Homo sapiens: one gene and its partner. The protein of the gene in region 1 interacts with the protein of each later gene in a biochemical or structural test. Each region holds a gene or a part of one and is shown in the gene's direction. Other genes may lie near its edges.

Region 1 (7,684 bases):
AATCTGGAATAGTTCCTCAGTCTCTCATTGTCTTTGTTTTTATTATTTTATTATTATTATTATTATTTTTTGAGACAGAGTTTCACTCTTGTTGCCCAGGCTGGAGTCCAATGGCACAATCTCAGCTCACCGCAACCTCTGCCTCCTGGATTCAAGGGATTCTCCTGCCTCAGCCTCCCAAGTAGCTGGGATTACAGGCATGTGCCACCATGCCTGGCTAATTTTGTATTTTTAGTGGAGACGGGGTTTCTCCATTTTGATCAGGCTGGTCTTGAACTCCTGACCTCAGGTGATCCGCCCGCCTTGGCCTCCCAAAGTGCTAGGATTACAGGCCTGAGCCACCGCGCCCAGCCTTGTTTTTATTTTTTTTTTTGAGACGGAGTCTTGCTCTGTTGCCCAGGCTGGAATGCAGTGGCACAATCTTGCCTCACTGCAACCTCTGTCCCCCAGGTTCAAGCGATTCTCCTGTCTCAGCCTCCCGAGTAGCTGGGATTAGAGGTGCACGTCAACACACCCAGCTAATTTTTGTACTTTTAGTAAAGATGGGGTTTCATCATGTTGACCAGGCTGGTCTCGAACTCCTGACCTCAAGTGATCCACCCACCTTGGCCTCTCAAAGTACTGGGATTACTGTCGTGAGCCACTGCGCCTGGCCTCTCGTTGTCTTTTATCAGTTTTACGTGCTTGACGTGTAGGTATAGAGCCTGTCTGCAAAAGAAAATTACTGTATGTGAAGTCTGATAAAGTAACTGATTGGTATCTATCTACACCCCATCCCCGCCCCAACACACACAGAAATACAGGAGGATTGAGAAATGAATTTTGAGGAGTCATGTAAAGAAAGATAGAAGGTTAAATCTAAGTTGCTTGTAGCTAAGCAGGATTTTATATTTTGGGTGCAAGAATTTAAGAAGAAAGTAATGTGTTTAAATGCTTAGAAAGGAAGGATCAGAATGTAGGAAGTGGGACCAGCAGTAGTGAAACTAGTGAGGAAAAGTTTCCCTCAGCCCATATGGGCAATTTCCCTTGGTTCCTGTGGAGCATTTGGCTACAGACACAGAAGCAAAAGCATTTAATCAAAGTGTTTAAGAACTGGGTTTTTGGCTGGGTGTGGTGGCTCACACCTGTAATGTCAGCACTTTTGGGAGGTCAAGGTAGGGGGATCACTTGAGCCCAGGAGTTTGAGACTAGCCTGAGCAACATAGGGAGGCCCTGTCTCTACAAGTAATAAAAAGCATTAGACAGGTGTGATGGCACATGCCTGTGGTCCCAGCTACTTGGGAGGCTGAGGCAGGAGAACCGTCTGAGTTTGGGGGTCATGGCTGCAGTAAGCCATGGTTGTTTCACTGCACTCCAGTCTGGGTGACAGCGTAAGACTGTCTCAAAAGAAAAAAAAAAAAAAAAAGAAAAGAAATGAGTTTTGGGGCCTGGCACGGTGGCTCAAGCACTTTAGGACGCCGAGGCGGAATTATCACTTGAGGTCAGGAGTTTGAGACCAGCCTGGACAACATAGACCCTTTCTCTACCAAAAAAAAAAGGTTTGTTTGTTGGATTATTTTTTTTTTTTGGAGACAGAGTCTTGCTCTTTTACCCAGGATGGAGTGCAGTGGCGTAGTCAAGGCTTTCTGCAGCCTCAACCTTTCAGTCTCAAGCGAGCCCCCTACTTCAGCCCCCAAGTAGCTAGGACCACAGGTGCATACCACCATGTTTGGCAAATTTTTAAAACTCTTTTTGTAGACCCTGGGTCTCACTATTTTGTCCGGGCTGTTCTTGAACTCCTGGGATTACAGGCATGAGCCAGCTTGCCCGGCCAAAAAATATTTTTAAAATTAACTGGGCATGGTGGCATGCACCTGTAGTCCTAGTTACTCAGGAGGCTGAGGCAGGAGGATTGCTTGAGCCCAGGAGTTCAAAGCTGCATGAGCTGTGATGGCACCACTGCACAACTCTTGCTCTCTTCACCACTGTGAAAAGTCTTGCTCAGTTGCTCAGGCTGGAGTCTTAAAAAAAAAAATAATAAATGGGTTTTTAAGCATTAGTTTGCTCATTCATTTATCACTGAGAGGCATTATGCTACATAATGAAAATACAAAGAAAAGTAAATCCTAGTTTTTGCTCTTGAGAAACTCAGTCTGATAGAGAAGAAAATGTATGAAAAGTTATCATATACAAACCTGTGTGAATCAATATTTTGGGAATACAGGGGGAAATCAGTGAAGGCTTCAAAAAGGAACTGACTAAATTTAAAAGGTACTAATGTCCGTCTGACCCACAGGCACCTGTTTGTGAAGTTTAACAGTGGTTATGTTTTGGAGAGAAGGCAAGGGAGTATGTTCTTGTAGCATTGCAGCAAACCACATCTATGGATGGTGGATGATTTAATCAGTCTTTGAAAAGGGTTATGGCAGCTGTTTTCAATGTGATAAAGCTTAATTGTAATCATGAAGATTATTTTGGAAAGAACCCATTTTAGTGATAATCCAACGTAAGAAGCTACTCAGAAGCAATTGAAAGGATTAGGTTGACTGGAAAATTATAAAACTGCCTAAATGTTCATATCGAGGTGATGTTTCTGGGGAGAAACACACCATTTTGTAGCCTCATGACTCATCAGTACACATGGTATTTGTCTCACTGGGGAACTCACTGTCTAAGTGGAACAAGGTTTTCCTTTTTCTTTTTGTTCTTTTTTTTTTTTGAGGTGGAGTCTCGCTGTGTCACCCAGGCTGGAGTGCAGTGGTGCAGTCTTGGCTCACTGAAACCTCTGCCTCTGGGTTCAAGCGATTTTCCTGCCTCAGCCTCCCAAGTAGCTGGGATTACAGGCGTGTGCCACCACGCCCAGCTAATTTTTGTATTTTTAATAGAGACGGGGTTTCACCATTTTGCCCAGGCTGGATTTGAACTCTACTGGCCTCAAGTGATCTGCCTCTCTTGGCCTCCCAAAGTGCTGGGATTACAGCTGTGAGCCACCATGCCCAGTGAAACAGAGTTTTTCAAGCATTCTCTCTCTCTATCTCTAGTTTTGGTTGAAAGCTGTCATTCTCTGGTGTGAACCTGGGAGGTGGAGCTTGCAGTGAGCCGAGATTGCACCATTGCCCTCCAGCCTGGGTGACAGAGCAAGACTCCGTCTCAAAAAAGAAAGCTGTCATTCTCTGGTCCCATCCCTTCATCCCTCTCCTTATACCAAGATCATTGCTTTTCATTTATTGTACTGAGCTATAATGGGTATTTTCTCTATTAAAAATATTGCTTAATATTTAAAATGAGAATCAAAGATAAAATGTTTAGTTCAAAAAAAAGGCATACTTGTCACTTTACTAAATTGTAAAATTTTTAACTTCTTTTTAATCTGTATGCAGGCAATTTTTTTTCCATCACATAAAGGTCACTGAGATACTGTGTCATTTATTTAGACCCCAAATTTTGTTTTTACAGCATGATAGTAGTATTGTTACTTTGAAAGGATTGTTCTTGATTTCTTTTTGGGGTGTTTGTGCGTATTTCAGTACTTCCAGCGGCAATGTAAGCAACAGAAAGGATGAGACAAATGCTCGAGATACTTATGTTTCATCCTTTCCTCGGGCACCAAGCACTTCTGATTCTGTGCGGTTGAAGTGTAGGGAGATGCTTGCTGCAGCTCTTCGAACAGGGGGTAAGTCCAGTGCATGTTATTTCTCAGTCCTTTGGTCACCACCCACAACCACTGCCATCTCCAACTCCATATTGCTGTTTGATGAGTGTTACCCTGTGGATAGCCCACCCACTGCTGCTTAGCTTGGGGAGAAGTTGTTGCTGATACGGGTCTGTTAAGGGGGAGAGGAGGAGGAATACTGGGGCATTTGCTTATTACTATGTAATTGTAAGAAATAGATTCCCTCTAATACATGGATGTTTTCCCTGATTTCATAGTAATGTACACTTTTTTCTCACAAATCTTTTGTTTCCCCACAATTTAATCTGCAAACTACATACCCTGATCTTATATTGAGAGTTAACAATACTGAATTGTTGAATAGTATGACATATAGTATGAATGTTTTCCATTTTCTAGTTAGAAAAAGGGAGGGTGAGTCTTGATTTATATATGGGAGCTTAATTTAATTTGAAAGTATCCAGTCTTAACATGTAACATTTGGATTTAAAGTTTTATATACAGGAATATTTGTTATTTTATACGAATTCATCCTTTTTCTTTTCTCTCATTCTGCACCATGGCTAGTTTGACCTGATTTTCTCCTTACTCTGCCCTTTCTACTTTGATTTCCTGACTGTCTCTTTTATTTTTTCTGCCTAGTTTATTTCCTTCTATCCTCTTGCATATTTGTATAGCAGTCTTCTGAGTGTGTCTGTATATGTGATTGGCAGATTAACTAAATGATTTCTTTGCATTGAAGCCTGAGTCACAGGAGACTAGACAGTTCTTTCTGTAACTTTCTCTACTCTGCTGGAGCAGCCAGAATTTATGGAGTTACGAAAAATGAATTGCCTGCTAGATCAGTTACTTCCTGTGCCTGAGGGATCAGGAATCATCAGTGCAGGAGCACTGTGGGTATCAGGTGAAGCCCAGAAAAGAAGTCTAGCGGGCAGTGAAGTGATCAGATTCTAACGAACTAAACTGAACGGTTTCTTTATGTCAGGCAAATGGGGTTTAAGAAATAGGAATGCAGTTTAATTACCTGGTATTAGAATTTTCTTTTAATCTGTTACAATAATTTGACAATTCTTTATGCCTATTTTTAGATGACTACATTGCAATTGGAGCTGATGAGGAAGAATTAGGATCTCAAATTGAAGAAGATATCCTTTGTGTGTATATTCATAATTGTTTTTTTTAATAAGTAATATTTATTGAACATATGCAAATGCCAGGCACGGTTTTACATGCAGTAGTCCTTCCAATGAATTAGGTGCTCTCATCCCATTTTACAGAGAGAAAACAGAAGCAGAAGAGGATTGGTCATTGTTCTAGATCACACAGCCTGACACTGACAGGGCTGGGATTCCATTGTAGGGAATTTGGCTCCAAGCCCATGACCTTGACCACCACGCTAGACTTTTTCCTTCATGTTGAAGCTGAATGAACTAGAAACAGCGAAGTTTAAAAGGACCTGGCTCTTTGGAAACTGAAACATATAAATCCCTAGTAAAATTGCTTCAGATAGCAGGAGAGTGAAAATATGATTGAGAACAAGAAAGGCAAACCGATAACATAATTAGAAGAGATTACAAAATACATGAGAACATTGGGTGTATCTCGTTGGCAATTTGAAAACCTAAAGAATTTCGCTTTCCTAGCAAAACATGAGTGTCCAAGATTGACTTTATGTACTTGGCAGGACAGGCTGTGTTATATTATGGTGACAACCTTGAAATTTCAGTGGCTTAACACCACAGAGGTTTCTTTCACAGATTAAACTGGACAAACAGGAATGTATTTGTCCTATATGTTCATCACAGGCTAGCTGAGGACTCTGGGCTTTGGGTCATTGTCCTCTAGGACCAGGCAGGTGGATTGGCCATTGTGAGTGGTGATGTGGCAGAAGGTAAAATGGATAAATTGCATACTGGCTTTCAAAACTACTGCTGAGGAGTGACATCTATTACTTCTGCTACCAGCCAGAAAGGTCTCTTGGTGTCACACAACTTCAAGTGGTCATAATTGTTTTAAGTAATCTGCTAGCTTAATTTTTCCTGTTGGTATAGAATTCAAAGTCTTATTCTTCACTTTTTATCTTGATTGTATTGTTTTCTTGGAAAGGAGAGGGACATCTATGTCATTTTATTTGTCTTGTTTTTCCTGTTATTGAAAAGGAAAGTACAGTATTGATGGCATTTATGACATTTAAATTTTTCTGCCTTGTAGATTGAGACTGTAGTGTCTGAATTTAAGTTGTGCAAAAGGGCATGGAAAGCACACACATATAAATGTGAAGACTTCTCAGTTAGGGGGACCTCAGAGCACACACAGTCACCTGAGCTCATTATCCCAGAGGAAGCGTGTTCTTGCTAAGCACCGGGAAAGGGCTCCAGGAGAGGGGTACTGTGTGTGAGTAGGGGCAGGGAGCATCTAGGTGGCTGTGTAACATGAGATTGTCCTGGTTGAGGAAATGGCCTTATTAGGAAGGGAGCTGTTCCAGGGTTCAGCTTTGGCAGTGGCCTCTTCTGCAGAGAAGAAGAGCCTGCTGAGGTAGCTCCTGCTGAGCTGGGGGAGGAGAGGAACCCTCACGGCCATGCTGAATGGTCTCTTCTCAGAGACCCTGTGGGAACTGTGTGACCAGAGAGACTTTAGGATCCTTAGTAGAATTCGGATTTGGGCAAGTAAAGCTTGAATAAGTTCAAGCTCCTTTTCAAACATGTGCTTTCTCATGTTGAGTACTTGAGTTACTTTTTGAAACCCTGTTGACTTGCATACTGCTGGCACTAAACATTTAGGAAATAAAACATGACTAGGCCGGGCGCGGTGGCTCACGCCTATAATCCCAGCACTTTGAGAGGCCGAGACGGGTGGATCACCTGAGGTCAGGAGTTTGAGACCAGCCTGGCCAACATGGTGAAACCCCGTCTCTACTAAAAATACAAAAATTAGCCGGGCATGGTGGCAGGCGCTTATAATCGCAGCAGCTACTCGGGAGGCTGAGGTAGGAGAACTGCTTGAACCCGGGAGGTGGAGGTTGCAGTGAGCTGAGGTCCAGCCTGGGTGACAGAGTGAGACTCCTTCTACCCACCTTCAAAACAAACAACTACTTTACAGTGTAAAAGTAATATCACTATTATTCGCCAATTACAGCTCAAGGAATTAGATATAGTACCTTGTTTTTAACATACTCTAAATTGGAAACAGTTGTCGTGAATTGCTTAGAAATTTCAGGTTTGTTTTTTTTTTTAAGATGGAGTGTCCCTCTGTCGCCCAGGCTGGAGTGTAGTGACCTGATCTCAGCTCGCTGCAACCTCTGCCTCCCAGGTCAAGTGGTTGTCCTGCCTCAGCCTCCCGAGTAGCTGGGACTGCAGGCACCTGCCACCATGCCTGGTTAATTTTTTGTGTTTTTAATAGAGACGGGGTTTCATCATGTTAGCCGGGATGGTCTCGATCTCCTGACCTCGTGATCCACCAGCCTCAGCCTCCCAAAGTGCTGGGATTACAGGCATGAGCCACCGTGCCTGGCCTCAGGAATTCTTATTTTGGCAGAACAGGAAAAAAAAGTGATCTTACTTTTGTAATTTTGCCTTTTTTCCTTAACGGCCTGGTACCTATATATCAAGAAATAAGGAATACAGACATGAAATACAAAAATAGAGTACGAAGTAGGATATCAAATCTTAAAGATGCAAAAAATCCAAATTTAAGGAAAAATGTCCTCTGTGGGAATATTCCTCCTGACTTATTTGCTAGAATGACAGCAGAGGTGAGTATGTGTGAATCTGAGGTTTCTATAATGTGATTCTGTGTTGTGAAGTGTAAAGCCTATTATCATCATAGACTACTATATAAATATTGCATATGTAATAAATTTCCGTTATTCTGATATATTTATATACTAGACAAATACTTAAGGTGATTGTGTCTTTTGTCAGTACTTTGCTCCCCCTCCAACTGTTTCCATGCTTTTAATGTGATTACACTAAATTATTTTCTAAAAACAAACGTGTTTTACTTTTTTTTCTTTCGAGACAGAGTTTTGCTTTT
Region 2 (7,684 bases), on another chromosome or scaffold:
CAGCTTCTCATTATTACATCGGTCTTATAAAGAGGGAGGAAAGAGAAAGGATAAAAAGGCTTTCTCTTAGAGAAGCCCTGTCTTATATTGAGAAGGAAGCTCTCCATCATGCTTCCCCTTATGTATAATTGTCCAAAACAGGGATACCTGGGTTTCTCAGCCTCAGTACTATTGATGTTTTGGGCTGGATAATTCTTTGTTGTGGGGAACTGTCCCTTCCATTATAGAATGTTTTAACAGCATCCCGGGCCTCTACCCACTAAATGCCGATAGCGTTCCTCCAATTGTGATAACCAAACATGACTTCATCCCCAGTTGAGAACCACTACCTTAGGCCAGAGGAAAAGATTATCTGGACTGGTGTAGATCAATCATGATTCATCCCCCGGGCCTGGGGAAGGGGGGAAGGGAACTTTCCTTCCTAAACTCAAAAGATTTTCACAGGCTACAAAATCTGGATTCTGTTAGCAGGATGTTACCAACCCAAATGGCTGTTGGGTAATCCACCAGTATCAGTCACACGAAGAAAACAGCTCGGATCAATAAAACCAAAGGTGGTAGAGGCCAGGCATGGTGGCTCTCACCTATAATCCCAACACTTTGGGAGATCAAAGTGGGAGGATTGTTTGAGCCCAGGAGGTCAAGGCTGCAGTGAGCTGTGTTCATGCCAGTGTACTCCATCCTGGGCAACACAGTGAGATCCTGTCTGAAAAAAATAAAAATTAATATAAATAAATAAAAACAAAGGTGGCTCTTTGTGGGAGAAGTAGGGGCAGGGACTAATAAAGTAGATGAGATAAGTCTCAAGCAAGAACTGAACAAGAAAATAAAAAGGGGAAAAAAGTGACACACAAAAAAATTAAGGATTAAAAGAGAGATTTAATTACAAATGCAATATAGATATTTAAAATCATAAGAAGCTTCTAATCCGTTTTAGTGTCTGATCTTAGGATTTATAACTTATTTCTTGTGACTAAAGAAAACTTCTTGAAAAGTGCTAATTTAGTATTGTTTTCACTCCACCTTGTTGCAATGTTTTCTTTTAGGCTGATTCCATTAAAAATGGTGTCCAGCTTCTTTCCAGAGCCTATACTATTGATCCTAGCAACCCTATGGTATTGAACCATTTGGCAAATCACTTTTTCTTCAAAAAGGTAGAAGTCATTTATTTTTAAATTCTGATTTTTGTTTTTCTGTACTGCAATTGATATTTTATTTCTTTTTTAAACTTGGAAAGAAATTTGAAAATGTCAGATTTTTTCCCCCCTCCAAATTATAGAGTTTGTTGTATTAGTTACCTGGGGGTACCTACATTTGTTTATTCATTTATTTGCTTAATATTTATTGACCCCTATATACTGTACCCAACACTGTGGTAGTGATGTGAAGATTAGTAAAACATGGTGTCTGTACTCAAGGAGTTCAATTTCATAGAAAGAGCAGCCATGTAAACAAATGTAAGTGTAAAAATAAAGGTATCTACTCATTTATGGTAGAGAAATGAGGAAGTGGTCAGATGGCTTAGGTGAATTTTCACCAAGGCTGCAGAGCTTTTGAACTAGGTTTTTAGGAAGAGGTCACTAGAGAGTTGAAAAGGGAAAGACACACAAATCTATGAAATAGTGTATAATATACTTATGGTAGGCAATGCTTTGGATTCAGATAGTGGAGCATTTTTGTAATACCAGAATTTGGACATGCTATGTAGGGAACAAGGAGTCACTGACATTTTTATTTTGCATGTTAATCATGTTGTATTTTTTAAGTTGCCACTAATTCTGTAGAAGCAGTGGTATTTTAGGTTTCTTAAAATACTAAATCTACTGGGAGTAGTGGCTCATGCCTGTAATCCCAGCATTTTGAGGGGCCTAGGTGGGAGGATTGCTTGAGCCCAGGAGTTCAGGACCAACACTGGCAACATAGTGAGACCTCATCTCTACAGAAATTTTTAAAAATTAGCTGGACATGGTGGCACATACCTGTAGTCTCAGTTACTCAGAAGGCTGAGGTGGGAGGATCACTTGAGCCTGGGAGGTCGAGGCTGCAGTGGTGAGCCATGATGGCGCCACTGCACTCCAGCCCATGCAACAGAGTGAGACCCTGTCTCAAAAAAAAAAAAAAGTGCGCTTTATGTATTTACTTATGTAATCTTCACAATAATTCTATGATGTAGGTAATCTTATTCCCATTTTGTGGGTGGATAAGTTGAGGAAGAGTTAATAGTCTAAAGTCAGTAATTCACTATGAAAGGGGAGTATGTTTCTACAGCCAGAGAGAGTAAAGCACTGTGGTTAATAGTTATGTGACCTTAGACTAACCACAGTGCTTTACTCTTTCTGGCTGTAGAAACATACTCCCCTTTCATAGTGAATTATTGATTAGGTTATAACTGTTATAGCACTGAAAGGCAACTATTTATGAAGAAGATGGAAATGTATCTTACAGGTAAACGAAGTGTTAGTCTAAGATAAAACAGCTATGCAAGCTAGTCTTATGAATTCACTCAGTTGACTTTCTGATCTTTGTTCAGGATTATAGTAAAGTCCAGCATCTGGCCCTCCATGCATTCCATAATACAGAAGTGGAAGCTATGCAAGCAGAGAGCTGCTATCAGCTAGCTAGATCATTCCATGTTCAGGTAATTTTATAACTTCTCTAAATGTCTAATCTTTTTACTTATAGTGTTTTAAGTCTTTCCAATACTTTTGTACATATTGGTCTTTTTTAATTTTCATTCTTTAGGAAGATTATGACCAAGCTTTTCAGTACTATTATCAAGCCACACAGTTTGCCTCATCCTCTTTTGTGCTCCCATTTTTTGGTTTGGGACAAATGTATATTTATCGAGGTGACAAAGAAAATGCATCTCAGTGCTTTGAGAAGGTTTTGAAAGCTTATCCTAATAATTACGAAACTATGAAAATTCTCGGCTCTCTCTATGCTGCCTCAGAAGATCAAGAAAAACGAGATATTGCCAAGGTACATCTTTTTTTTAAAGTCTTAGCTGTTTTCTGTTAGCTGTCCCAAAACTCCCATTTCTCATTTCCTGTTATTGCTAGTAGAAATATGATAGAAACAGTTTTGTTAGCTGAGCTTGTTCCAGTTTAGATAACAAACAATGGATTTATTAAACAGACTTACATAGCCCCCACTTTTTATTTTGACAACCTATAGATGGAATACTTCAGCTTAACAATCTCTTTTATCCCAGGGCCATTTGAAGAAGGTCACAGAACAGTATCCCGATGATGTTGAAGCTTGGATTGAATTGGCACAAATCTTAGAACAGACTGATATACAGGTATTTTAGTAATGTTTTTTAATCTCTCATATGATGTGTTTTTTGTAAGCCTGGTGTAGTGTCTCTCTTCCACTTACACCTTTTTCTGTCAATCATGAAAATACAGGGTGCCCTTTCAGCCTATGGAACAGCAACACGAATCCTTCAGGAGAAAGTGCAGGCCGATGTTCCTCCAGAGATTCTCAATAATGTGGGTGCCCTCCATTTTAGACTTGGAAACCTAGGGGAGGCTAAGGTAGGAAAATAGAAATATTTCCTTCTTTTATACTGAATCAAGTTGCATGCACACCTTTTTAAAAAGTGTATAAACTAAATCTTTTAACAGTGTGATTTTTCTTTCTCATAGAAATATTTTTTGGCGTCATTGGACCGTGCAAAAGCAGAAGCGGAACACGATGAGCATTACTATAACGCCATTTCCGTTACCACGTCATATAATCTCGCCAGGCTATATGAGGCGATGTGTGAATTCCATGAAGCAGAAAAACTGTATAAAAACATCTTACGCGAACATCCTAATTATGTTGACTGTAAGGATTTTAAACTTCTTTATGTAATGAAATCCGTTCATTCCCACAAGAGCAGCAAAAATTTAGCCTGAAAAAAATTTAGAATTGATAGTAAAAATTGTTTAAGGTTCTAATGTCCCCATTTCTCCAGGGCAAATTTGTGGCCTTAAAACAAAGGTGCAGCTTTACTTACATTTGTGCTAGAAATAAGCAACTAAAACCAATTGGACCGTATTTCAATGACTAGGTTATCTTCAGTGGGTCAGCTACCTTTGTTAGGCTTTTAACAACTCCTTGGCATATCTGATAATGCATTTACCTTTGAAACATCCTTCTTTGATTTCATATGAACATTCTTACAATGTTTATAATAGTGAGGAAGAAAAGTGCTTTTCCTTTAAACAATTATTGCTAAAATGTCCTAATTTGAGTTTCGCAACCTATACGTTATAAAATAAGGAAAGTTTTTAATTAAAAAATAATTTAGGCCTGGCATGGTGGCTCATGCCTGGAATCCCAGTACTTTGGGAGGCCACTGCAGCGGGATCGCTTGAGTCCAGGAGTTCAAGACCAACCTAAACAACCCCAGTAGCAAGACCCCATCTTTATATTTTAAATAATAATAATATACATAGTGTACTTAATTTTATTTGTGTGTATGAGGGTTTTTTTGTTTGTTTTTGTACTTTCTTTAAAAAGAACCTAAAGCATGATGTTTTGACTCTAGTAAATCAGGAGGTTTTTTGTTTTTTTGTTTTGTTTTGTTTTTAAGATGGAGTCTTGCTCTGTCACCCAGGCTGGAGTGCAGTGGCACAATCTCGGCTCACTGCAACCTCTGCCTCCCGGGTTGGAGTGATTCTCCTGCCTCAGCCTCCCGAGTAATTGGGATTACAGGGGCCCACGACTACGTCCGACTAATTTTTGTGTTTTTAGTAGAGGTGGGGTTTTGCTACGTTGGTCAGACTGGTCTAGAACTCCTGACTTCAGGTGATCCATCCACCATGGCCTCCCAAAGTGCTGGGATTATAGGCGTGAGCCACCGTGCCCGGCATATCAGGAGCTATTAACTTGGTGCCTATCATGCTGTTATGGATGCAAAAGTGATTTAAAATAAGCAAGATTTCAGTTGAATGCCAGACTGAATTTGAATTGATTTGATAGGCAGTAGTGAACCATTATTGGTTTCCTGAGAGAAGTGACATTTCCTAGAGAAAACAACAACTTACATTTGTGTAGCACTTCACTATTAATTAATGGAAGAACCCCAGTTAGAGCCCAGATCTTCTAAGTAGTAATACCTATTCATCAGACTTTCACTGTTTTGCCGTATTACAAGCAGCTTTTTTTAAAAAAAGGTAACTGACAATGGTGTGCATTGGAGAGAAATTAGAAACAGGCCGGTTCCAAGCTTTTAAAATAACTTAGCTTGAGATAAGGACTTGGACCAGGGAACTAGCATTGGGAGTGGAGTGGCAGAGGTAAGTCTTAGATTTCAAACAGTAAGTCTAGATGGTGACAAAATTATTCTTTAACTTGTTGGATGGATGATTGATATTTTTTCACCTTTGGGACTTTTCTGTTCCTTTTATGGCGGTATTAATGAAAAAAAATTGTTTCAAAAGTATGACTTTAAAATTATGATCCTTTATAGCTAATATTTGGGATATAAAAACTTTTAAATATGTTTTCAGGCTATTTGCGCCTAGGAGCCATGGCTAGAGATAAGGGAAACTTTTATGAGGCTTCAGATTGGTTTAAGGAAGCTCTTCAGATTAATCAGGTTGGTAATATTAACTCTTAGGTTTGAGAAATAATTATTTTCACTTTTCCTTCCCCATAAATCAGTTTTTCCTTTTAATGGCTACATCTTCCTGGTTTTGTCATTTTTTGTTTTGTTTTCATTTACTTGTTAGATACTAAAAATGTACTAGGTTGCATTATTAATCATGTTATAAATAGGGACCATGTTTTTTTATGTAAATCTTTCCTATTGTCTTCCTTTTTCCTTCTTCCCTTCCCCCATCCCATCCTTTCACTCCACTTCAACAAATGTGACCTGACTCCTGTGTTTTTTACTCTCACTAGTTTACTTCACTTTCAGTTTAGTTAGTACCATATGAGAGAACTTTATAGCATAGTATCTTAGGATTTTGTATGGAACCATAGCTATGGTCATCTAAACGTTTTGAGGGCCCACAAAAAGAAATAGATTTCACATCATAGCCTAGTACACACAAATGTATATATAGACAAACAACTGAAATGAAAGTTTCACAAATCATTATTTGCTTTTGCCAATGGGCGATACACTGATATTTTTACTTTATTCCATTCTGTTGCATTTACTATGCAGATAACTAAAGACTAACTAAATGGATTTTACAACTTACTAATGGGTATCAACTCAGTTTGAAAACCACTCATGTGGGGGTCTACAACAAGAAGTGTATATTTTCAAACAATTTTTTAATGATTTAACAATTTTTGTAAATCATTTTCAGGCTTCTGCAGCTGTAGATTCTCACTGTGAATCCCATGCTTGCTCATGCCTAAGGGTATTTGCAATACCAAATATAGTTTAGTATTTTTGCCTGTTAGTGATGGTTCCACGTTTGTAACGTTTTGGTTGAGATTTTAAATGGTGGACAAGTACTGTGGATGTGAATGTGGGGAACTAATTTTAATCATATGTAATTGGTCACAAGGCCTAATTTGCAGTAACTATTGCTGTTTTATTTAACAGTGCCTTGTTGCTTTGTATGCATTTATGTCTGGATGTAAAGATTGTGTGTCTATCCAACAGGGAGCCACAGTATTTAAATTGACCAACCTAATGTTACAACTACTTTGAGGTGGCCAAATGTAAACTGAAAGCATTAATTAAAGTGGTGCAATTTTGTATAACTTAGCTTTAGCATTAGTAGTTCGATAAATTTGGATTGCCATGCAAAAAAAAAAAGAAAGAAAGAAAAGAAAGAAAACCACTGTTGTAATATAGTTTGTAAACCTCTTCAGTAATCAGCTATTGTGGGAAGATGATTGATCTCTGTCAAACTAAACTGCAGATTTTCCTTCTTCATGTATGTATGTTTCAGGATCATCCAGATGCTTGGTCTTTGATTGGCAATCTTCATTTGGCAAAACAAGAATGGGGTCCTGGGCAGAAGAAGTTTGAGAGGATATTAAAACAGCCATCCACACAGAGTGATACCTATTCTATGCTAGCCCTTGGCAACGTGTGGCTCCAAACTTTACATCAGCCCACCCGAGATCGAGAAAAGGTAATCTCTTTTTGTCCTTTTAAACAAAACTGATACTCTACATTCTCGTTTGAATCTTTTTTAAGAGCACTTGTTTCTATAGGAAAAGCGTCATCAAGATCGTGCTCTGGCCATCTACAAACAAGTACTCAGAAATGATGCAAAGAATCTGTATGCTGCCAATGGCATAGGTGATTATAAGACTTGAGTACCCATAACAATTTGTTTCAAATGAATACTTTCAGAGGAATGTTTGTAAATCAGAATTTTTCTTAAAATGTGATCAATGTAGTTGTTTTAAAATAGAATTTTTAGTTGTTTTTCTGACTCCAATTAGAAAATTGTTAAGTGTGAACCTTTTTATATCTTTAGGAGCTGTTTTGGCCCACAAAGGATATTTTCGTGAAGCTCGTGATGTATTTGCCCAAGTAAGAGAAGCAACAGCAGATATTAGTGATGTGTGGCTGAACTTAGCACACATCTATGTGGAGCAAAAGCAGTACATCAGCGCCGTTCAGATGGTAATAGCTTCTCTTTCAAGATATTTTTATATCTTGTTCATTGTTAAGCAGATGTTTTCTTAGCCATTCTGGCCCTGTCATGGAGCTGCATGC

Evidence for each region. Proteins that work in one complex are often made in the same cells at the same time.
Region 2: the proteins of TCEA1 (region 1) and CTR9 form a complex in vitro, tested with the Homo sapiens proteins (2 studies listed by BioGRID).

What each region holds. Positions count from the first base shown.
Region 1 is NC_000008.11:53,984,082-53,991,765, reverse strand, and holds part of TCEA1 (transcription elongation factor A protein 1), read left to right. Parts: intron 1-3,506; coding exon 3,507-3,652; intron 3,653-4,740; coding exon 4,741-4,797; intron 4,798-7,248; coding exon 7,249-7,403; intron 7,404-7,684. Other genes in the region: LYPLA1-TCEA1 readthrough, read left to right, coding at 3,507-3,652, 4,741-4,797, 7,249-7,403.
Region 2 is NC_000011.10:10,760,901-10,768,584, forward strand, and holds part of CTR9 (RNA polymerase-associated protein CTR9 homolog), read left to right. Parts: intron 1-1,046; coding exon 1,047-1,154; intron 1,155-2,530; coding exon 2,531-2,638; intron 2,639-2,742; coding exon 2,743-2,979; intron 2,980-3,211; coding exon 3,212-3,301; intron 3,302-3,407; coding exon 3,408-3,536; intron 3,537-3,647; coding exon 3,648-3,831; intron 3,832-5,501; coding exon 5,502-5,590; intron 5,591-6,905; coding exon 6,906-7,091; intron 7,092-7,173; coding exon 7,174-7,261; intron 7,262-7,442; coding exon 7,443-7,591; intron 7,592-7,684. UniProt on the Homo sapiens protein: Component of the PAF1 complex (PAF1C) which has multiple functions during transcription by RNA polymerase II and is implicated in regulation of development and maintenance of embryonic stem cell pluripotency.